Linked DNA regions of Homo sapiens: region 2 is linked to region 1. The links come from fine-mapping of genetic effects on gene expression. A gene starts in region 1. The other region holds a variant in brackets. All regions are shown on one strand. Distances are from middle to middle. Region 1 holds the start of RABIF (RAB interacting factor). Region 2 has its middle 26 kb from the start of RABIF.

Region 1 (8,000 bases):
TCCTGAGCAAAATACATCATTGTTCGGGCCGGGCACAGTGGCTCATGCCTGTAATCCCAGCACTTTGGGAGGCTGAGGTGGCCGGATCACCTGAGGTCAGGAGTTCAAGACCAGCCTGGCCAACATGGCGAAACCCCCATCTCTACTAAAAAAATGCAAAAAATTAGCTGGGCATGGTGGGGGCACCTGTAATCCCAGCTACTCGGGAGGCTGAGACTGGAGAATCTCTTGAACCCAGGAGGCGGAGGTTAGGTGAGCAGAGATCGTGCCACTGCACTCCAGCCTGGGCAACAGAGTGAGACTCTATCTCAAAAAAAAAAAAAAAAAAAAAAAAAAAGAAAAGAAAGAAAAAGATGCTTAACAGCAACCCTGGCTTCTACCCACTAGATGCCAGTAGCACACCTCCCTCATTCTGACAACTAAAAATGTCTCCAGATATTGCTACATGTCCTCTGGAGGTCTGGGGATGCGGGAGGAATCGAGAAACACACTACTTTAGACTAAAGAACTCTGGAATATAAGATACAGTAACTCCTAGGCCCTGGATCACCTCAAAGGTAGGACTGGCAATCTAGTTCTCCAACTGTTCCCATCTGCAGACTACTAGGCTATTGCACTGGGTGGAGCGAGAGAGAAAGCTGTAGGCCACCTCTAGCCAGACTCCTTACACCTTTCTGCAGGCTTAACGGCTGGGAGCGCTCCTTTAACACCTGCAGAGATGAGTAACAGCCCTGCTGTAATTGCCCTAATGGTGGTTTATCTGCAATATGTCACAGTTATGAGAAAAAAGAGCTACCCCGAACCTTTACGGGGTTTACCCCAAAGCTTTAGTTAAGGAGCTCAGCATCTCAGAAGCTGCTTGTTCTCTCTAAGGATGGAACTGTTTTTCCCCACCTTAAAATGTGTGACACAGAGCAGGGAAAGGACTAATAAATAACTGGTTAGAATCTTCCATGAAATTTTCTACCTTCTATTTACATCATGTCCTAGAAGTTATATTTTTGCTCAAATTAGTATTTGAGAAAAGAAAGGAGAAAACAATTAGGACTGACAGTAAGGAGAACACTGGGTTGGATTACAGCTGAGTTGCTTGAGTCCAGAAAAAGGGATAGGATTCTTCCAACAGTTCTTTCTCAAGAAATAGGAAATTTCCAGAAATACTGAAGCCATTGTTAAAAAACACAACCCAAAAAAAAAAAAACCCACCTTTTTGCCTTTTTAAAAGAGGGAAAACATTTTAAAACACATAAAATGCATTAAAAAAATTCTTAGGCCCCTTTCTAGAATAGGGACCACTGTGTTCGTTGAGAAACAAAAAGAAATGTAACATATATAATTTAATTTGCTCACACAATTTTTGGCAAAATCAGTTTAAAATAGTATCAAACAAGAATTAAGAATTTTGACTGGTTGGAAGCTGCAGTGAGTCATGCTTTTGACAGAGCACAACGGGGAACGGGAACGGGGAGGGGAGGGGAGGTGGGAAGGGAAGGGGGGAAAGGAAAGCGGGGGAAGGGAGGGGAGGGGGAGGGGATGGGAGGGGAGTGGGAAGGGAAGGGAGGGAGGGGAAGGCAGGGCAGGGCAGAAGGTAGGTCCTGCCGGGCGGAGCGGCTCACCTGGCCAACATGCTGAAACCCCATCTCTACTAAAAATACAAAAATTAGCTGGGCATGGTGGCGTGCACCTGTAATCCCAGCTACTTGGGAAGCTGAGGTAGGAAAATCACTTGAACCCGGGAGGAGGAGGTTGCAGTGAGCCGAGATCATGCCACACACTCCAGCCTCGGCGACAGAGGGAGACTCCATCTCAAAAACAAAACAAAACAAAAGAAAGATCCTGGCCAGGCACGGTGGCTCATACCTGTAATCCCACCACTTTGGGAGGCCAAGGTGGATGAATCACTTGAGCCCAGGAGTTGGAGACCAGCCTGAGCAATACAGTGAGCGCGTCTATGTTTTTTTCTTTTTTCTTTTTTTTTTTTTTTGAGACGGAGTCTCGCTCTGTCACTCAGGCTGGAGTGCAGTGGTGCAATCTTGAACTTCTGCCTCCCGGGTTCAAGCGATTCTTGCCCCTCAGCCTCCCAAGTAGCTGGGATTACAGGTGCCCACCAACACGCCCAGATAATTTTTGTATTTTTAGTAGAGATGGGATTTCACCATGTCGGCCAGGCAGTTGTTGAACTCCTGACCTCAAGTGATCCGCCCAACTCAGCTTCCCAAAAGAGCTGGGATTACAGGTGTGGGCTATGTTTTGTTTTTTTTTTTTTTTTTTAAAGAAAAAACAATTAAGAATTTTAAAACAAACTATAAACTCCATTTAGAAGTCTCTTAATTTATGTCAGTTTATAAAATTAGACAAAACCTTGCCATGGAAAAGGAGTATGGGAACTAACCTATATTATGGGCTATATACTCGGCACAGTGCTAAGTGCTTTTATACAAATTCTTCCCTCTATCATCATCTTCATTTTACAAGCTTGTCCAACCCGCGGCCGGCATATGGCTCAGAACGGCTTTGAATGCGGCCCAACACAAATTCGGAAACTTTCTTAAAACATTATGAAAAATTTTTTTTTTTGCAATTTTTTTTTAAGCTCATCAGCTATCATTAGTGTATTTTGTGTGGCCCAAGACAAGTCTTCCAATATGGCCCAGGGAAGCCAAAAGACTGGACACCCCTGTTTTACACAATAGCAACCTGCATCTCATGGAGGTTAAATAACTTTTTTTTTTTTTTTTTGAGATGGTGTCTCGTTCTGTTGCCCACACTGGAGTGCAGTGACTCAATCTCCGCTCACTACAACCTCGGCTTCCCAGGTTCAAGCGATTCTCCTGCCTCAGCCTCCCGAGTAGCTGGGATTACAGGCTTGTGCCACCACCCCCAACTAATTTTTGTATTTTTTTTTTTAGTAGAGATGGGGTTTTGCCATGTTGGCCAGGCTGGTCTCACACTCCTGACCTCAGGTGTTCCGCCCGCCTCGGCCTCCCAAAGTGCTGGGATTACAGGCATGAGCCACCGCGCCCAGCCTAACTGTTTTAATGTTAATGAATGATAGTCAGGACTCAATTCCATGTATGTTTCAATTCCAAGATCCATGTTCTTTCCACTGACTCCATAATGCCACTAACTTCGTAAAATTAATTGAGAACTCTACTCCTAAACCTTGAAGTCTTAAAAGAACCCCGGGACCTCCACCAATCTCTAGATCAAAAGTCATCAAAATACCTACAAAACAACAGACACAGATTCCCTTTTTTCCTCCTTTGATGAAAGGCTGTTTTGGACGAATGGGTACCTCTTGCTCTTCTACTAGACATTACACTTCACCATCTGTTCAAGCACGTGAAATAATAAAATGATCTGCATATTTTTAGAAATAATTTTGAATGATAGGATGTGTCTATGGTTGAAATGACATTATATTTGCACTTCAACACAGTTTACCGAAATAAATTTTTTTTTCAACTTTCTCACTTGCGATGATGGTGGTAGGAAGGGTATTAAAATCCCTAAACTGAAGGGAAAAAAAAAGTTTTTCTTCGAAATTTACTTCCAGGACGTCAGGGATCTACTGCACTTGAAATATGATTCATCTGGAAAACCACAGGCTTCCAGTGCCTCGGTAAAGTGGGTAGGTTACCAGGGTTATTTTGCCGCGTCCCCAACACCAGTTGTTCCTGGGGATCCTCTGTGGAGCAGATAGGTGCCCGTCATAAATGAGACGGTGAATTCAGGACTGGCGGGTGAGGTCTAAAGTGGGAAAGGAACCCAGCAACACCCGCGGTGAGCGGCGGCCGAGAGGCACCTGCCGGGTCCTGCAAGCTGGCGGGAGCTCCGAGAGCCGGAATGGGGCGCCTCCCTTCCACGCGCCCGCGGAGCACCGGCCTTGGACGGCGGCGGGGCGCACGGCCCGCGCTCGAAGCCCCCCCGGGGGCAGAGGGCCGGGCTGGCTGGGCCGGGTGGCCCAGGGAAGGGTTCCCGCGGCAAAAGATGCCGGGGCGGGACCCGGTTCCCTCCCTAGCCTTCAGCGGCCCCAGGGGCGGAGCCTCGCCGAGCTGAGGCCCGAGGGGCGGGGCTTAAGGCCGCGCGAGGAGGGCGCGGTTGCCGGAAATTGAAGAGCCGGGGTTCAGATTCTGACTGCGGCGGCTCGTCGGGGGAGACTGTGGGTGTAAACGGCCTCCAACCTGCCTCCCTACCTGTCGGCGAGAGAAGAGAGCGGTCCCTGGCTGCAGCACCCGGGAGCCGCAACGCTGGCACAGCACCGCCTTCCGGTTTCGGCCCTCGGCTGACACTAACTCGCTCGGCTGCTCCGCTGGTTCCATCGCCGCTGCCGCCACAGGCTCCTCAGCCACGGCTGCGCAGACGCTGTCTCTGCTGGCTCGTTATTCACTGCGCTGGCGCGGCTTGGCAGAGGCGGGGCGGCGAGCGGACGGTCACTATGTCTCTGCGCAGGCGCCCGCTTCCCCGCTCTGGACTCTACTGCGCAAGCGCCTTCATTCATTGCCTAACCTAAGTGGCTAGGTGTCGGCAGGCTTTGTGACAGGGACACTTCTTGGCACCAGTGACACATCTCCATACCCACCTGGCCACTGGGCTTCACTTAAAACCTAGACAAATCATTAGGTTGACCTTACTGTTTAGTTTTCTGGGATCTGAATTTAGTCTCCTGAATAAATGGGGACATTATTGGGGGCAATATGAAGGGAATCTGGGTCGGACTTCCCATCAAGTTTTAGCCACATTAGCTTCTTCTATAGGAAACTACTTAGAGGGGCATGTATCTTTTCGGTATTGGAAAAAGATGCGTGGAAACTTTAATTGCTGGTCTCTTCTACTCATTGTGACCATTTACTATGCGGCAAAATGTGTCAAAGCGCCTTTAGAAACTTACTAAATCATCAGTTTCCTTACGGGGTCGGCACGCTTGTGCACAAAATGAGAAAGGTAAAGATCAGAAAGGTTGCAGCACAACTCTAAAGCCACTGCTCTTAATTAACTAGGATTGTCAGGAAAGCAAGATTATTTCAGACAGAACAGTATTATATATGAACAAGGGTGAGAACAAATTTAGGAATGGTTAGTAGACCACTGTGGCTGACCCACATTACACGTGGGGAGAAGTGGTAGTAGAGGTAGGTAAGGCAGAGTGGGCCCAGAGCTCCATGGCTTTAATGTCATGCTAAGGAATTTAACATTAATAACATGAACAATGGGAATCTGTGGAATTTTAGGCCAGAAATAACTGTTCGATATTTACTGTCTGCTGTATGTTAAGCACTGTAATGATCCTATCTGTGCTTCAGAAAGATAACCTATGAATAAATAGAGGGGCTAGATTGAAGAGAGGAAAAAGAGTAGAGGTAAGGTATCAGGTAGCTATTACCTCATCAGTCTAGCTCAGAAAGGCCCTGAAGCTAGCAGAGGGAACAAAGATATGGGAATGGACTTGAAACAATTAAAATTGTACAGAACTTAGAAACTAGCTGGATGTCTGTATTGTGATGGGGGTGACACAAAGCAACTGCTGGTTTTCCCAGGTTAGATAACTAAGTAGCTGGTTGCCAGTTATGGGAGCTTAAAAAAATAAGATGAACCACCAAATTAGGGGTATCTCTGTGTATGTATGTGAGCACATGAAAGTGTGTACGATTGTGAAGAGTGAAAAAGGAGCTGTTTTACGTGTTGATTTTTCTGTAGAACATACCATTGTGGCTTCAGTGTATGAACTATTTGTGAAGTTGGTCTGAAACTCATTAGTCAGCACTGAAGACAGCATAGGAGCCATCAGTCCTTCACCCTCCCCTGGATCTCTTCCTGAGATAGGAAAAGTCACGTTTTATAGGCTTTGGTTTAATTAGCATGCACAATCCATCTGCCAAAGTTGGTAGGCATCTTTTAAGGAAAATAACTTCCTCATGTGGCTCCTCCTTCCTTTTGCTCTGGAAGCATCAGGACTGTTTCAGTTTTGCAGGCCTTCCGCATAGCTGTTTATATCACATGCCACAATTCAAAGCAAATGGAAAAAAGGACTGGTGTGACTGAAACCCTGAAATTCAAGCGCGTGCTAAGTGAATTCAAGATCTTTTCTGTATTCCTTTTTCAAGTAACTCCAAGCGTCAGAGGGGCTAATGAATATGGCAAATCAGGTAAATATTTTACTGATGAGAATCTCCAAAGTGTAAAGTGGCTACCTCTTACCTGTGTCTAACATAGAAATAGCGGAACTAGTTGGCAAACACACAAGATGAACAGCTTGAAGAGACAGGAGCTACGGCTGATCCCTACATCTTTCCCTCCCAAATATCTACTAAAGGCAATGTTGGTTAGCCACAAACTCTCGGCATTTGAGACCGTTGATTTTTAATATTTTCTTAAAAAAATACAAAGGAAATTAACTCTGTAGGTCAATACAACTCAGGGAAAGAGGGAAAAATGGAATTTCAGAGCAAAGGTTGTTTAGGTTATCACATTCCCACACTCCTAATACCCACAAAACAAGAATTTCACTCCATGACACAGAGGAACATTGAATGGTAGCTCAGAAATGTTGATAGCTGAGGTACTGAAACTAACAAAAGGATTTTGGTTGTCCTTGATTATTCTGTCCTGTGATGAATAAAATCTACACTAAAGGACAGGTAAGGAAAACTTATAGCAGAAAAAAGACTAGATGTACCAAACACAGCAGTACAAACCACTCCTTGGCAGACATGTGCTTCTAAAAGAATGGGGCAGTAATCAGGTAGCTGAACTACTAGGCTACTGTCACTCCCAGCCCATCCCCAAATAAATAGTGTGGAAGTGTAATAGTGTAGTAGTATTTGATCCAACAAAGAAAGGCTTTCACCCCCATTCAAGGCAAACATTGCCATGGCTAGATGAGCCCTGGCAGGTAATAAGATGACTGTAAAATCACAGGTTCTTCTAGTTTATCCCCAGTTATACTGAACTCCCACATTGATGTCATCTTCTCTCATCCCAACATTTGTTCACTCTTTTATGCTGTCTCCAGTGCGAAAGACCTCGGGGAAATAAAAAGATCCTTCAAATAATATACCCTTCTCAGTCTTCCAGGTTATGTAATACTTCAGTGCTGTTCTAGGTTCACTCACAATCAAATTCAGTTTAATTCACTTAATTCTAACTTCAATTCTGATATACAAATCCTGACCTCCAAAAGAAGTGTCAGATGAGTCTCTCTCTCCCTTGTCCCCAAAGTTTTGTGGGGCTCTCCCTTTTGTTTCCCTCTAGAATGGAACTGTGTTGCCCCTAGCTACCTGTATATGAGAAAATGTAGTTGTTCCTGGAAAAAAAAAAAAAGACTTGGATTTTACCAAGTTTACTTAAACTGGTATCTTTCCAATCATCTAGGCTGGATATTGCCCATATCTAGTAGGCTATACTCACCTTAGTTCTTTGCAACATATGAGGCACAACATACATATAGTACACCAAGCATGTGGTAAGTTAGAAATGACAGGAAAGTGCTCCCCAAAGCAGTGGGAGAGGCAATGTGGTCTCTCACATCCATTCAATGTGCATTCTTTTTCCTGGAATATCTGTTACCCACCCTTCTCAGGAACAAGAACCAGGACGACGGGGAGTATGTGTCAAATAAGTACAATCATCACTGCACTGGTGCCTGTAATCACCCGGTGCACATAGTGAGAAACAGACATTCTGGAAAGGATTTTTGATTCTCCCACTAACTGTCCACTGGACTGGTCACTAGCTCTGGATGGTGCTCCAACAATGGTCACTTCTCGCGGAGAACACAAACACCAGCATCACAGCGCTGGGTTCCCATGGATGTCACGACTTCCCAGCTGTCGATGATAGGGTCATAACATTCAATGCTACTTAGCAGGGAATTACCATCATATCTGAGTGGGAAAGAAGCAAAAGAAAGAAATGAGTCAGCTGCGTGCAGTGGCACGTGCCTGTAATCCCAACTATGCAGGAGGCTGAGGTAAGAGGATTGCTTAAGCCCAGGAGGGAAT
Region 2 (16,881 bases), 26 kb before region 1:
GAGACGGAGTCTTGCTCTGTTGCCCAGGCTGGAGTGCAGTGGCGCGATGTTGGCTCACTGCAAGCTCCGCCTCCCGGGTTCACGCCATTCTCCTGCCTCAGCCTCCCCAACAGCTGGGACTACAGGGGCATGCCGCCATGCCCAGCTAATTTTTTTTGTATTTTTAGTAGAGACGGGGTTTCACCGTGTCAGCCAGGATGGTCTCGATCATCTCCTGACCTTGTGATCCGGACACCTCGGCCTCCCAAAGTGAGCCACTGCGCCCAGCCGCTATATATGTTTTCTAATGCCACAGCTGCCATCTTTAATCTTTCTGGAGTCTTATCCCACAACAAAACCCAAAAAACAAACTAGGTCATATGCCCAGCACCCTGGGAAGGTCAACTGATAACAGGGTGGGGCATAAATGCGTGCTTCTTCCTTATTACCGCAAAAGGAAGAGAACGCATCCAGACGCAGAACACAAGAAGCCTCTGACCTTCTGATCCGCACTTTCCCCATCATCTGATAATGGGCCTCTCTGGCTTCTGAAAGCCTTCCCTTCTGAGCAGGAGCCTATAGCACGTGGTTATGTCCCTAGCACAAGTGACAAGGAGGCCATTCTCCCCATGTGACTGGCAGCCCTAGGGAACGCCTTTTTACCAGGCTAAGTAAGATGAAATTGATACTTTTCCTTTCATCAAGGCAATCTTTCAAGTAGAACCCACGCTGGCTTACAGTCCAAAGGCCTGGCTTCTAGACCAGCTGAGACCTATCCAGTTAAAGGAATCCTCTAGCGGGGCACAGTGGCTCACACCTGTAACACTTTGGGAGGCCATTGTAGGTGGATCACCCATGCGCAGGAGTCTGAGACCAGCCTGGGCAATATGGTGAAGCCCCACCTCTCCAAAAAAATACAAAGTTAGCAGGGTGTGGTGGCACAAACCTGTGGTCCCAGCTACTGAGGAGGCTGAGACAGGAGGACTGCTTGAGTGCAGGAGGTCGAGGCTGCAGTGAGCCAAGATGACGCCAGTGTACTCCAGCCTGGGTGACAGTGAGATCCTGTGCATTTGTTCCTCACACCTCCTCTGCAGGAAGCTCCCGTCTTAGCAGGTACACAGGCCATGTGCTAACTGCCCTTTACCCCCACTTGCCTTGAAACCTGTGGGACACGTCCGCAAAACAAATATTTGCTTGGTTTTAATGGTGGCAATGGTGGCATTCTCGTCCTTGGGCACCACTTCTCCACAGTAGAGCAGGCAGCAGGCCATGTACTTGCCGTGGCGAGGGTCACACTTGGCCATCTGATTGGAGGGCTCAAAGTAGACACTGGAGATCTCTGCCACTGAGAGCTGCTCATGGTAGGCCTTCTTAGCTGAGATAATGGGTGAGTAGGTCACCAGGGGAAAGTGGATGCGAGGGTAGGGCACCAGATTGGTCTGGAACTCTGTGAGGTCCACGTTGAGGGCACCATCAAAACACAAGGAAGCAGTGATGGAGGACACAATCTGGCTGATGAGCCAGTTCAGGTTGGTATAGGTAGGGCGCAGGTTGTGGCAGCAGAGATCATAGATGGCCTCGTCTACCATGAAGGCAGTCTGAGTGCTCCAGGGTGGTGTGGGTGGTCAAGATAGAGTTATAGGGTTCTACAACTGTCATGGACACTTGGGGGACTGGGTAGATAGCAAATTCCAACTTGAGCCAGTGCCATCCCCAAAACTATGGAAGATCAGGAAGCCCTGAAGCATGGTGCACTGGTCTGTCTGGAGCAGGCAATAACATCATTAAGGATGTAGATGGCATGTCACCCGTCCCAACCCTCTTCTCCTGAGGAAGCTTCTGTGTTGAAAGCTACTATTACCTAACTATACTTGCATTCACTTCTGTATTTTAGAAAGACTTTGAAGTATAGTTTATACTTAAGTGTGTGCATCTTTTGGACATACAATGAATGATTTGACATGCGTAGACACCTATATAACCAAACCAACAGAGATACAGAAATTCCCATCACCCCGAGAAAGTTCCTTTGTGTCCTTTTGCTTCGCCTCCATAGAGGTGAAAAAAGATCACCTGTCCAGGTGTGGTGGTTCACACCTGTAATCCCAGCACTTTGGCGTACCAAAGTGCTGGGATGGCAACACCCCATCTCTACAAAAAAATACAAAAAGTATCTGGGTGTTGTGGTGTGCACCTGTAGTCCCAGCTACTCAGGAGGCTGAGGCGGGAGGACCACTTGAACCCAGGAGGTAGAGGTTGCAGTGAGCTGTGACTGCACCACTAGTGGCATTCCAGCCTAGGCGACAGAGCAACTCTCTCAAAAAAGAAAAAAAAAAAAAAGATCACCTACAGGAGGTTTGGAGTTCCTAGGGAAAAGATGACTTGGAAAGGCAGTGTTGTGCATACGCAATGGTAGGGATGAGGAAGGACGGATGATTTGCACTCAGAGAGCCAGGCCCTCTCTGTTTTGTTGCCCTGCCCCCTAGTTACAGCAGAGTGGGAGTGGTGGTGGCATCCTGTTGAACATACAGATTACCAGGCCTCACCTCAGACTGGAACCCAGGAACCTGCAGCTTTAAAAAGTACCCCATGTGATGCTGATACAGCTGTTTCTTGGGTAAGAAAATCATCAGTCTATACCAGACACATGGTAGTGACAGTATAAAAGAAGTCTACCCCTAGGAGGTATTTTATTTTCATTCTTGAGGAAGGGAGCACAGAATCCTACTCCTCAGGTCACTTCCAAGTCCTCAGTCTCTACCGAGCAGCAGAGAGTATGTCTAGGCAATCCCCCTACAGCAACAGGGCCAAAGTCCTGGCTCACAGGCAGCCTCACTGGTGGTTCTCAATGCCTCGGATAGGGGAAGGGTGAACTGGTGAAATGGTTGAGTGCTAAACAGGAGCCCCTCCCACCTGGACAGATCTGCATAGGAGTCTAAGAACAACAAGCTGAGCTGCTGTAGAGATGGATCAAAGGTCAAAGAAGGCTTGGATCAGACAGACCTGGCAAAGCGAGGAACCATCAGGGCAGAAGCTTGAGTCCACAAACTCAAGGCAGAGCAGTTTATTCAGGCTTCCAACCCTAGATCCGTACCCAGGACAGAAAACACATATCCCCTTAAGAGAAGCTGAGTGGACTGACAGGCTGGAGGAATGATGTCAGGTACCAGCACAGGCTGTGGTTGCCTCCCAGCCAGGAAGAGGGTTAAGGATGCAACGACCTCCTGTAGGTGCCAGAGGCCTGCTCACCAGTTTTCAGATTCACTCCAGCACCAAATCGATGATCTCCTTCCCCGCAGTGTAGTGGCCACGGGCACAGTTGTTGGCAGCATCTTCCACGCCAGATATCAGCTGTTCAGGGTGGAACAGCTGCCTATAAATGTCAGTTCTTACCCCATCTTGAGGGGAAGAAAGGACAAAGGTAAGACAAGCTGGTTCATTCCCCAAGGGAACGCCAGACACCAGAACCTTTGCTGCTAAGCCTCCCCAGGTACAACTGCTCAACAGAGTGATGATGCACGGCATCTTCTTTTTCTTTTCTTTCTTTTTTTTTTTTTGAGACAGAGTTTCACTCTTGTTGCCCAGGCTGGAGTGCAATCACGCGATCTTGGCTCACCACAGCCTCTGTCTCCCGGGTTCAAGCGATTCTCCTGCCTCAGCCTCCCGACCAGAGACCCACTTCTAAGGCCAGGTCCTGCCTGGGCTTGAGACGGGGAGAGCAGGTGGCACCTTCAGTGGTCCCTTCCCTCTACAGCGACTTCATTGTGCTAGGTGAGGAATCAGAGTGGTGTTAAGGAGAATCTCACTTCACTTTCGAATAGGGTAAGAATACAGACTAATGTAAATTTTCACCATGGAAAAAGAAAAGAAAAAAAAAAGAATACAGACTAATGAAGAAACCCAGTGCACCATTTAACATCTAAAATAACAGCTTTAAAAAATGGAGGAGGGGTAGAATTGTCACGATTAGAAAACAGAGGAGATCCAGATGCAGAAGGGAGGAAGCAGGAAAGCCTCCGGAAGCCAGCAACAGCCAAGTTCACATAGGCCCACATCCTACGTGGGGGGGGCCTATTTCAGTTAAGGCTAAGCAGGAGGCCAGTATGAATGTTCTTGGCTCCCTGCTTCTTACGCAATGGGCCACCCTCAAGAGTCTGAGGACAGGGAAAAGCAAGTTTTAAATTTCTGCTTTTACATCTGCTCCTTTCTGCAGTCTGCGTTCTAGGCCTGATCCCTGACTCCTATCTGGCAGTTTCCTGGCAGAGTTGTGCGAATGATCTTCCTCTCAATATAGGAAGCCCCCAGGACCTCTTCTGAGGACAGAGTCTAGACAAAAGCAATAGACTTCAGACTTCAATGCTGTTCATGGCAGGGGACTGCTTCCATCTCAAGTATTTTCCCCTTAAGCAGAGCTCCCATCTGACATTGGCGCTAGCAAAAACTATGGCCTGGGGGAAGGAGCCCCCACTCCTCCGTCCACTCACCTATGACAGCAGGCTCCAGGTCCACAGACAGCCCAGGACACATGCCTGCCAGGCTGGGTCTCCCTGAAGAAGGTGTTGAAGGAGTTATCACTGCTCCCCAGGGCCTTGTGGCTGGGCATGGTGCCACTGGGCTGGATGTCGTGCTCCAGGCAGTACAGCTCCCAGCAGGCATTGCCCATCTGCACTCCGGCCTGGCCCACATGGATGGAGATGCACTCACACTGTGAGGGTGAGCAGAGGAATATGCCAGGGCATGAGTGGTGTGGAGTGAAAAGGTGGGGACTTGAAAAGCCTTCCCTGGGAGCACCCCTTGTCTTTCCTCCCTAAAGGCTGAAGCTTAGTGTTACCTAGTCCAAAGTTCAGACGACTGGCCGGGTGCAGTGGCTCATACCTATAATCCCAGCACTCTGGGAGGCCACGGCAGGCAGATCACCTGAGGTCAGGAGTTCGAGATCATCCTGGCCAACACAGTGAAACCCCACCTCTACTAAAAATACAAAATTAGCCGGATGTGGTGGTGGGCGCCTGTAGTCCCAGCTACTCAGGAGGCTGAGGCAGGAGAATCACTTGAACCCGGGAGGCAGAGGTTGCAGTGAGCCGAGATCACAACACTGCACTACAGCCTAGGCGAGAGAGCAAGACTCCATCTCAAAAAACAAACCAAAAAACCAAAGTCCAGAAGACTCGGTTCTCTTTCCAAGCCTTCCCATACTTTAAGCCAAACCACCTTCAGGCCCTCATTTTCCTTCATTCACTCAGAGCTTAAGAAGGTGGTTATGCCTAGGTCTCTGGGGCAGGAACTAGAGAAAGCCAAAACCAAATAGCCAAATCCCACTGCACAGTGTCCTCCCTGCTGTTTGGGGTGCCTTGGGAAAGCTCAGAGTCCTGTATTCCAAGACAGGCCCACCAAGAGCTTCTAGATTCAAGCACTGGGGCCTAGAAGAGGAGGTCTCCCATGGGCAGCAACTGTCTCCCCCACATCCCAAAAGGGCAGAAGACTAAGTTCAGACCTGTGGATCAACTGAGGAAGCAGCCTTGGAGTTAGAGCTAGCCTTCTGAAAGCTCACCCACAAACTCCCCTTTTGGGGGGACAGGCACCTACTCTAGACACCTGTCCCTGCCAACTGCAGTACAGGCAAGCTAATCCAAGTCAGTACTCCTAAATTAAGCGTCGCAGCGGAGACCAGAAGACCCACCCTACCTTTCGACTCTTTTCACTCAGGTAACTCCTATGATGGATAAACCCTTCCTCCCTTCTTCTGGTCCTTCACCCAACCCACGGTCTAGGGGGTCAATTTAAAAGGGCCGAGCACCTCCCAGATGTAGAAGGGATCTTCTAGGGTGACAGTAGGCAACAGTTTAACAGTCTTAGGAACTACCCTCTAAGACAGCCTCAGAGCCTTTAAGGGGGCTCAGAGCACAGGCAGGGATCAAGAGGTTTCCGGGGGGTACAGGGACCTCTGTGTACCCACCCCAAGTTCTCAGGCTTTTTTTTTTTTTTTTTTTTGCTTTGATTTCTTTGAGACCGAGTTTCGCTCTTGTTGCCCAGGCTAGAGTGCAATGGCGGGATTTCCGCTCAACGCAACCCCAGCCTCCCAGGTTCAAGCGATTCTCCTGCCTCAGCCTCCCGAGTAGCTGGGACTACAGGCATGCGCCACCACGGCTGGCCAATTTTGTATTTTTAGTAGAGACGGGTTTCTCCATGTTGGTCAGGCTGGTCTCGAACTCCCGACCTCAGGTGGTCCGCCCGCTTCGGCCTCCCAAAGTGCTGGGATTATAGGCGTGAGCCACCGCGCCTGGCCAGTCAAGTTCTCAGTTTTAACAGAGGGACCTCAAGTCCTTGGGCACCAAACAGGAGAAAAGTGGAGTCAAGAACATTCTTTTCAAGGCCCCAAGAGCTTACAGGAATCCCTAGTCAAGTATGGGGCCAAAGGGCGAGGACCTCTACCTCTGGCCAGAGTCGGGCGCCCAAGACAAAGACATTCAGGGGAACAGGTTTTGAACTGGAGAAACCTGTTAGAGCTTCCCAATCATCCTGGACCTTGCCTCCTGCGCGGCAATGTGATCTCAGAGGGAGGCGGGGACCGCAGCTACAAGCGGGCACCTCTTTGTCCAGGACCGCAGCGGGAGAAATACGGGGCGGGCCCTAGATCCCCTCCAGGCTCCAGAGCGCGCTCTGCCGCAGAGCCGACTCCGCTGCCCGACCTTGAGCGCAGCGCACAAACGACCCCACCATGTTCTCGCCCACGCTTTACCGCTCGCCAGCCTCCCTAGTCCCTCAGCGCTTCTGGGGCGCTCAGAACGTTTCTAGCTCGCACCGCCTCCCGTAGGGGAAGCAGGGTAGAAAAGTGGTGCCGGGACTCCTCGGGCGTCCCCGGGCTTTCTGCAGAGCCCACCTTCGCCCTGAACGCCCAAACACCCCTGGCATCCCCGCGCAGCCCACCCCACACCCTGGACTGCCGGGGCGCCCTTCCGTTTTGCGCTGCGGGCCCTTCCCACCGACCCCCCGTGCGCCCCCGGCATCCTCCCCATCGTGCGACACCCTCCCCCGCACAGCATCCTTCACCATGGTTGATCCAGTAGTTGAAGTTGGAGGGTCGCTGACTGCAGACACCATACGGGTCTCCAGCAACACCACGAATCCCAACGCGCGGTTGCTGGCGGGACCTTATAAATCCCCGGAGAGCCGCCGGTTGTGTCTCCTGGCGGGGACTCCCATTGGGTCGCAGCTGGACAGAGATCGGATCGTCCCCCGCGCGACTCTCACTGGGCCAGGCCCCCACCGAGGCCCGCCCCTCTCTCCGCTATTGGCCAGCCGCTTACGAAACAGCCCCGCCGCAGCGGTCATTGGGCAGTTGGTAAAGCCAAAGGGAGGCAGAGTCGGGCGTCCGCGTCCTCCCGGCCAGCTCGACCGTCTTCTCTATTGGGGTGAGTGCTGGGTCTACGAGGTGGAATCTTTGGGGGAAACACCCTCATTCTGTTTTAGTTTTAGGACTTTGCACCAGTGACACCGCTGACCTGATTCGAAAAGTGTGTCGGCCTTGGAGAAGGGTGCATACTTAAGTTCAGCAACCACTGCAGAAGGAAAGATGCTGTGATGAGAACCGACTGCTGGGAGTTTCCAGAGCGGGACAAAATGCGGCTGGGGTGGGTAGGATAGGCAAACAGGCATGGGAAAGGACATTGCAGGCGCCGGTAGTTGACGTTTACTTCCCTTTTGACCGGAGCAACTGCTCAGGTTCAGGTGACTCGGGTTCCTGCAAGAGCAAGGGGTCCGGGCTGGCCAAAGCAGACTGAGGAGGGCCTGTAGGGTGGAGGTGAAAAGGAGGCGTGGGGCCTTCAATGCTAGGCTGGAGAGCTTGCATATAATTTCCCTGGCATATAATTTCAAACCATCGAGGGGTTTTGAGCAGAGGAGTGATGTGATCACTGCAGCATTCTGAGCAGTACTTAGATGTTACTTGTGCATTATTTTTTTCCAGTGGTGGTTTCATATTGTTCCATGCTAAAGAGCATTCACATACTTTTCCCTTTTTCCAAACTTTTCCTTAGCTGAGACGTTTTACTTCGAAATATCTAAGTGTAACAAATTAGCTCCTTTCTTTTTGGGAGGGTTAATTGGTGTTTGGTTTATCAAATGATTGGCCACCCCGCCCAGTGATTACCCTTAGTATTTGTGAGGCACATTCCGGAGGAACCCAAAGCATCGCCATCTCCTCTTCATCCCCACTTCCCAGTGGACAGGTGATTGCATCCAGTTTGTATAGAATCAGGCTTGGAGACTTGAATTACCTGAGGAAAATCTGCAGCTGATATGACTTTCTGCTGATAGAACTCAGGAAGACCCTGTCACTGGCCATTGTGACATCAGACCAGCTGTCCCCTGGATGCCTGCACCCATTTTTACACAAGACTCTAGCCATGTCATTCAAAACTTTCCTGAAATGTTTTGAAACGAAATGCTTGGTCAGGTGACTCAAGAAGGTTTAAGTCCAGAGTGCAGAGGTTAACTTCAAAGTCTGTAAAGTATTCTTTGGTCTCAATCCTTGTTAATGGGCTTCATGAGGCTGCCAGCTCTAAAGTAGACGCCTCTGGTTAGGGGATAAGGTGAGAGAATGTGGGCAAACATCCAAATAAGTGCTTTGAAACCTCATGTATATAGAGTTAAGACACGGCTATTCATTGGCTGTCACTACCCCTAGCAAAACAACTCAAATGTTGCATTTGAGTTGTTGCCTTCGACTGAAGGCAGGCCTATCAATGATTAAAATAAAGCTACCTAGTAATAAACTCAAAACATCATAAACTCAACACTATCATCTCTTGCTTGCCTCACCTCATGAAGCACTCATTCCACCTGCTGGTAGAGTCAGCCAGTTAAAAATGTCTTTCCATTCCTGAGTTGACTCTAACCCAGGGATTATAAATACATTTGAAACAGTGACATTCAGTGTTATTTATGGAAGCTGCACAATCCCCCATCCCCGCCATTGGCAGTGCACTTCTTTACATCAAACTGATGAAAACTAATCCTCTTATAAGCTGTTTGGAGTTATTTCTATTATCCAGACTGCCTTCTATCTTAGAGTTTTATTTCTAACTTTTCCTCCTCCTCTACTCTATATCACCCTACTTAACTCCTTTGCCATTACAGGCACACCATTTTCACATACCTCTTCAGGAATTTAAAATATTCCAAAATTCAAAGAGTCTCATTGTTGCTGGAAAA[A/AG]GGGGTCCAATCCAGACCCCAAGAGAGGGTTCTTGGATCTCACGCAGGAAGGAATTCAAGGCGAGTCACAGAGTGCACAGTAAGAGGTAGTTTATTGAAAGCTACTCAGTTACAGAGTAAGGTGTCCTTAGAAAGCAAGAGGAGGAACGTGCCATCCCTGTTTTAAACTCTTCTTATGTAGGGGTCTTAACCATGTTAAAGCTAAGTTATGTCTACATGCTGGTGGGCTGACAGCATGACAATTTAGGAGTTTGTTGATTGAAAGAAAGTTATCCTTGGCATTTGAGTGTGTAAGTACCTCAAAGCATGATTATAACTATCTTAAAACCATATATTATTACTCAATGTCAGGACATCTGGACATTCTGCTGTCATAGGAGTTTGTCCTCGCAGGCATTACTAAACTGCTCCCTTAGCCAAAACATCTTATGGCCACGGGTGGTGACTGGCAAGGAATATGCCTTGCTGGTTTTAGATGGAGTTGTTTTTTTTTTTTTTTTTGAGACAGAGTCTCGCTCTGTCACCCAGGCTGGAGTGCAGTGGCGTGATCTCGGCTCACTGCAAGCTCCGCCTCCCGGGTTCACGCCATTCTCCTGCCTCAGCCTCCTGAGCAGCTGAGACTACAGGCGCCCGCCACCACACCCAGAGAATTTTTTGTATTTTTAGTGGGGACGGGGTTTCACTGTGTTAGCCAGGATGGTCTTGATCTCCTGACCTCGTGATCCGCCCGCCTCAGCCTCCCAAAGTGCTGGGATTATAGGCGTGAGCCACCGTGCCCGGCCCCTAGATGGAATTGTTTTTTAAAATGGTATCAACCTGGCTCTCCTATGCTCCTATTTCCCTAACATAATCCTCGATTTATAAGAGATCTCTTAATCTTAAGGAGAGATGAGGTGTGAAGGTCATTCTTCTGTAACTTCTTCTTGCTGATTTTATGGGCATAAGATTGGAGAAGTAAAAATTATCTGTTTGCCCCATCTATGGGCCCAAAGGTGTCTTTATTTCCTGGGTCAGAAAATGGGATGGGCTGGAAGCCTTGTGCCAGCATTATGTAGAATTGTAATCTAGAAGACACAAACTTCACTAGGAGTTAAACAAGTAAGGTGCTAAGATTGGTAATAACCAGACAGCTATCAAAGGTCCTAAGAAGGGCAAAAAAAACAGTGAGACTCAGGAGGGAGCATCTTTTTGAGATGGAGTCTTGCTCTGTTGCCCAGGCTGGAGTGCAATGGCATGATCTCAGCTCACTGCAACCTCCACCTCCTGGGTTCAAGCAATTCTCTGCCTCAGCCTCCCAAGTAGCTGGGATCACAGGTGCCTGCACCACACCTGGCTGATTTTTTTTTTCAATCAATTTAGAAAGTTTATTTTGCCAAGGTTGAGCACACACTCATGACATGACACAGCCTCAGGAGGTTCTGACAACACGTGCTAAAGGTAGTCGGGGCACAGCTTGGTTTTATACATTTTGGGGAGACATGAGACATCAATCAATATGTGTAAGGTGTACACTGGTTCAGTCTGGAAAGGCGGGACAACTCGAAGTGGGGGCTTCCAGGTCATAGGTAGATAAGAGACAAAAGGCTGCATTCTTTTGGGTCTTTGATCAGCCTTTCACTGAATACACAATTTATATGGAGTGGGGAGTAAAGGAATAGTCACGCTGATGCCTTAGTCTGGCTCAGTGGATCTGCATTTTTGCATAAACAATAGGGCAGAAGAAGCAATCAGACGTTCATTTGTCTCAGGTGAGCAGAGGGATGACTTTGAGTTCTGTCCGTTGTCCTGCACCTGAGAACTGGGCAGCCTCGTCCTGAGCATGACGGAGAAGGGGACCTGGGGCTAGGGAATCCCTGATTCAATCATGCCACTCCCCAGGAGACGTTCGGAGCCCAGGACATGTCGGGAATGAGGAGATACGAGGTGGCCGATTTTTTGTATTTTTAGTAGAGACAGGGTTTCACCATGTTGGCCAGGCTGGTCTTGAACTCCTGATCTCAGGTGATCCACCTGCATTGGCCTCCCAAAGTGTTGGGATTACAGGCGTGGGCCACCATGCCTCGCCACAAGGGCACTTTTAATGGTTGATCAGTTAAGACATGGCCTGTCACTATTCATTGCCTGTCACTACCCCTAGCAAAACAACTCAAATGTTGCATCCAACTGAAGGCGGGCATATCAATGATTAAAATAAAGCTACCTAGTAATGAACTAGGGATTGATGTCTTGGTTATATTTATGCAACCAGGCAGTTTGTTCATATATTTTCTGTAGATCTTCTTCTATTTGACTGGAGGTGTTTACACGAGTGCAGCAGGGTTTATTGATTATAGTGCAAATACTCCCCCTTGTTCAACCAATAAGTAATGTAGTGCTAATCTATTATCCATTGCTATATTTGCTAAGGAATCAAGGAAGAGTTTTGATTTATCTAAAGCCTCCCCCATTTTATAAGACAGTCTGTAGAATGAAGTAAAGTTTTGAAGAGTTGTCTTGGGATAGGCAAATTTTCCCTACGGGGCCAATAAACCACTGGCAGCCCCAACTCCAGCCAATATAAGGCCAGCTGCCTGCTTAGCTCTCAGGTGAGTGATGTTATGTAATTATATATTAAAGAGCTTTGCTTGTTCTATTATACATTGACCCCCGAACCAAACATTATCAATACACTGTGTATCCATGGGTTTCCATGATCCCAAATGAGAGACAAGTTATTTATAGGCTGATTGAATGGATGACCACATAGCCACAGGTATAATCCGTTGGGGGTGCAAACCTGTATGGGATGGGAGTTGTTAAGAAGGTTGAGTACCTGTAGGAGGGACTGAGGATGTTACTTATCTCTTTCTTTGCAAAACAACAGCTTTAGATCTTCTAGGGGTTCACAAGTGTAGGTTGTGGTGTCTTTCTCAGGTGCCTGTGGGGACTTGTAAAAAACAGGTTTAATCTTGGACAGGTGTACTCAGCTAGTGAGTCCCCGAGGCTTAACAGCAGTGGGGGTGCCGTGCTTAACAATACTCCCCAATAAGGGCCCTTTCATTTTAGTTGTAATTGATTTTGGGGAGATCCTCCTTTCCAAGGTTTTTTTTTTTTTCTTTTTTTTTTTTTTAACAGAGTCTTCCTCTGTCACCCAGGCTGGAGTACAGTGGCATGATCTTGGTTCACTGCCACCTCCATCTCCCAGTGCAAATGATTCTCCTGCCTCAGCCTCCTGAGTAGCTGGGATGACAGGTACCCACCACCACACCTGGCTAATTTTTGTATTTTGAGTAGAGACGGGGTTTTGCCATGTTGGCCAGGCTGGTCTTGAACTCCTGACCTCAGGTGATGCACCCACCTCAGCCTCCCAAAGTGCTAGGATTACAGGCGTGAGCCACTGTGCCCAGCCTTCTTTCCAAGTTTTTAATAAGACTAAGTCTCCTGGTTGAATAGGGGAGCTACGAATATTTATGGCAGTGGCCTGCCTGACACAGGTATATTGAACAAACATGCATGTAACATATGACTCTGTTTACGTTGCGGTGAAGACTTAACCCCACACCTGGTCATAGATCCTGTTTATAGTTTGATATCTTATTGCCATAAATAATCTGTTCTGTAAGTTTTATGATTTCTATTTTAATGTTAATGCTGGCCAGTTGTATCTGAATCCCAAGAGGGGAAATGTGTAGTGAGGTATGTCTGACCCCCAGCTTCCCATCATAACCTGAACTAGTTTTTCAGGGTATTTTTTTTTTCTTTGAGATGGAGTCTTGCTCTGTTACCCAGGCTGGAGTGCGGTGGTGTGATCTCAGCTCACTGCAAGCTCCACCTCCTGGGTTCACGCCATTCTCCTGCCTCAGCCTCCTGAATAGCTGGGACTACAGGCGCCCGCCACCACGCCCGGCTAATTTTTTGTATTTTTAGTAGAGACCGGGTTTCGCCATGTTAACCAGGGTGGTCTCGATCTCCTGACCTCGTGATCCACCCGCCTCGGCCTCCCAAAGTGCTGGGATTACACGTGTGAGCCACCACACCTGGCCTTTTTCAGGGTATTTTTAAAATTCTCTTTGGCCAAGAGGGGGGTCTGCTCTGTTGGGGGGCTTAGGGTTTTATTTTTTAGTTTATATTCCTCCTTTTTTGTCAAGGTATGCCAGAGGCAGTATTAAAAAATGAACCAGGCTGGGCACAGTGGCTCATGCCTCTAATCCCAGCATTTTGGGAGGCTGAGGCAGGTGGATTACCTGAGGTCAGGAGTTTGAAACCAGCCTGACCAACATGGTGAAACCCCGTCTCTACTAAAAATACAAAATTAGCTGGGTGTGGTGGCGCATGCCTGTAAGCCCAGCTACTAGGGAGGCTGAAGCAGGAGAATCACTTGAACCCAGGAGACGGAGGTTGCAGTGAGCCAAGATCACACCATTGCACTCTAGCCTGGGTAACAAGAACAAAACTCCATCTCAAAAAAAACAAAAAACAAAACAAAACAAAAAAACAAGAAAATAAAACTCCAAGAGTTTACGTTTTATCAAGATAATTCCTATGCTATGTTTATTAGGATTTTGGTTACTAAAAAAACTGAGATTTAAAGGGTTAAAGCTTTTTTTTTTTTTTTTTTTTTTTGACAGAGTCTCTCACTCTGTCCCCCAGGCTGGGGTGCAATGGCACGATCTCGGCTCACTGCAACCTCTGCCTCCTGGATTCAAGCTATTCTCCTGCCTCAGCCTCCCGAGTAGCTGGGACTACAGGCACGTGCCACCACTCCCGGCTAATTTTTGTATTTTTAGTGCAGATGGGGTTTCACCATGTTGGCCAGGCTGGTCTTGAACTCCTGACCTCAGGTGATCTGCCTGCCTCGGCTTCCCAAAGTGCTGGGATTACAGGTGTGAGCCACCATGCCCGGCTACCTTTTTTTATATAAAATTATCCTCTTTATAACTTGCCTTACCAAAAATACATCTTCATTTCCAAAACTTTCCTCATCTCTCTCCCCTATTTACTGGTTCCTTTCTACCTTTTTTCATAAGTAACCATTTTCTTTTCTTGAGATGGTGTTTCACTCTTGTTGCCTAGGCTGGAGTGCAATGGCACAATCTTGGCTCACCACAACCTCCACCTCCCGGGTTCAAGCGATTCTCCTGCCTCGGCCTCCCAAGTAGCTGGGATTATAGGCATGCACCACCACATCCAGCTAATTTTATATTTTTAGTAGAGATGGGGTTTCTCCATGTTGATCAGGCTGGTCTTGAACTCCCAACCTCAGGTGATCCATCCACCTTGGCCTCCCAAAGTGCTGGGATTACAGGCATGAGCCATCACGCCCAGCTTTTTTTTGTTTTCCCTGAGATGGAGTCTTGCTCTGTCGCCTAGGCTGTAGTGCAGTGGCATGATCTCGGCTCACTGCAACCTCTGCCTCCCGGGTTCAAGCGATTCTCCTGCCTCAGCCTCCTGAGTAGCTGGGATTACAGGCGCCTGCCACCATGCTCGGCTAAGTTTTGTGTTTTTAGTAGAGACGGCGTTTCACTATGTTGGCCAGGCTGGTCTCCAACCTGTGACCTCAGGTGATCCTCCTGCCTCGGACTCCCAAAGTATTGGGATTACAGGCATGAGCCACCGTGCCCAGCCATAAGTAACCTTTTTTTTTTTGAGTCGGAGTTTCGCTCTTGTTGCCCAAGCTGGAGTGCAATGGTGCGATCTCGGCTCACCACAACCTCCGCCTCCTGGGTTCAAGTGTCTGTCCTGCCTCAGCCTCCTGAGTAGCTGGGATTACAGACATGCGCCACCATGCCCAGCTAATTTTGTATTTTTAGTAGAGAGGGGGTTTCTCCATGTTGGTCAGGCTGGTCTTGAACCCTGACCTCAGGTGATCTGCCTGCCTTGGCCTCCCAAAGTGCTGGGATTACAGGTGTGAGCCACCACACCCAGCCAAGTAACCATTTTCTTCTTTTTTTCTTTTTCTTTCTTTTTTTTTTTTTTTGAGATGGAGTTTTGTTCTTGTTGCCCAGGCTGGAGTGCAATGGTGCCATCTCAGCTTACTGCAAACTCCGCCTCCCGGGTTCAAGCAATTCTCCTGCCTCAGCCTCCCGAGTAGCTGGGATTGCAGGCATGCGCCTCCACGCCCAGCTAATTTTGTATTTTTAGTAGAGACAGGGTTTCACCATGTTGGTCAGGCTGGTCTTGAACTTCTGACCTCAGGTGATCCGCTCACCTCAGCCTCCCAAAATGCTGGGTTACAGGCGTGAGCCACCGCGCCCAGCCCAAGTAACCATTTTCAAGTCCATAATTTGAATTGACCCTTAGATGGCTTCTGAATTAGACAACATTATTCTTTTTCTCAATAAGACTAGTTCTCAGGAGGCTTTTGCCCTCCAATGCCACCCAGAGAGATGCTGAATTAAACAACCCAAAGAATGAAAACCATCATGACCAGAAGGAAAATGACAGGCGTAAGCTTAGGGCATACAAGCCGAGGATCGCGTGTGTCACTAGCGAGGCATAGACAGCAAATATGCAGCTGAGAAAGGGGACAAGGGGGACTGAGAACCAATAGGTGCTGGCAAATATGCCTCTGAACCTCAATTTATCCAACAGCCCTGGGTAGGGGCCTCTAACCCCCAGTTCCCAGTGAATATAAAGAAACATGAGCATCCCATGACTCCTGGGGCTCAGAAGGCTCAGCAGGAAAAGGAACAACACAGGGAAGGGAAGGAACGCAAAGGGCACTCACTTGTCTGTGAATCTGAAAACTTAAGAAGCATTTTATAGAGAAAACCATTCCACAATCCTAGAAACATGTTTTTCCGTATCATAAACTTTTCTTAATTGGATATAACTCAGACATCCATCAAGTAATCCAAGGAAAGCTATGGACCAAAATTTTTGTTAAAGTTTTTATGGAAGTTTGGATTTTTTAGGGTTTGTGTTTGTTTGTTTGTTGTTGGTGGTGGTGTTTCTGAGATGGAGTCTCACTCTGTGGCCCAGGCTGGAGTGCAGTGGTGTGATCATGGCTCACTGCAACCTCCATCTCCCAGGCTTAAGCAATTCTCCTGCCTCAGCCTCCCGAGTAGCTGGGATTACAGACATGCACCACCATGTCAGGCTAATTTTTGTATTTTCAGTAGTGATGTGGTTTCACCATGTTGGCCAGGCTGGTCTCAAACTCCTGGCTTCAAGTGATCCACCCACTTTGACCTCCCAAAGTGCCGGGATTACAGGCGGTAGCCACCACACCCGGCTGGAAGTTTGGTTTTTAAGAAGCCTTTTTCACATTTTTTTTCTCAGTGTCAAATTATTCTCTAATGTTTCCATTTTATCTAGAACTGACTGAATTGTATAAGAAAAACAAAATCTCAGCCAGGTGCAGTGGCTCATGCCTGTAATGCCAGCAGTTTGTGCGCCTGTATTCCAAGCTATTTGGGAGGCTGAGGCAGGAGAATCGCTTGTACCCGGGAGGCAGAGGTTGCAGTGAGCTAAGATCACGCCACTGAACTCCAGCCTGGGTGACAAGAGCCAAACTCCGTCTCAAAAAAGAAAAGAAAAGAAAGTTATCCTTGGCATTTGAGTAAGTACATCAAAGCATAACTATAACTATTTTTAAAACATATATTGTTATGCAATATTGGGACAGCTGGACGTTCTGCTGTCATAGGAGTTTGTTCTTGCAGGCATTACTAAAACAGCTTCAAAACATCTTATGGCCATGGGTCGTGA

What was found. PIP is the estimated chance that this variant, and not a neighbour inherited with it, causes the effect.
Region 2: its variant is fine-mapped to the expression of RABIF in whole blood (TOPMed, PIP above 0.99).

What each region holds. Positions count from the first base shown.
Region 1 is chr1:202,884,777-202,892,776 of GRCh38, forward strand. It overlaps RABIF (RAB interacting factor), which reads right to left and starts at 4,373. Exons shown (of 2, transcript NM_002871.5): 1 at 4,197-4,373. The coding sequence starts at 4,322. It overlaps KLHL12 (kelch like family member 12), which reads right to left. Exons shown (of 12, transcript NM_021633.4): 12 at 6,344-7,883. The coding sequence ends at 7,757. RefSeq lists enhancers at 1-408, 4,139-4,408 and a silencer at 3,779-4,068.
Region 2 is chr1:202,854,419-202,871,299 of GRCh38, forward strand. It overlaps the pseudogene TUBA5P and the pseudogene ACTG1P25. Among named protein-coding and RNA genes, the nearest start is that of RABIF, 26 kb to the right of the region's middle. RefSeq lists a silencer at 7,230-7,279. The variant A/AG (reference allele first, on the strand shown) is at 9,193.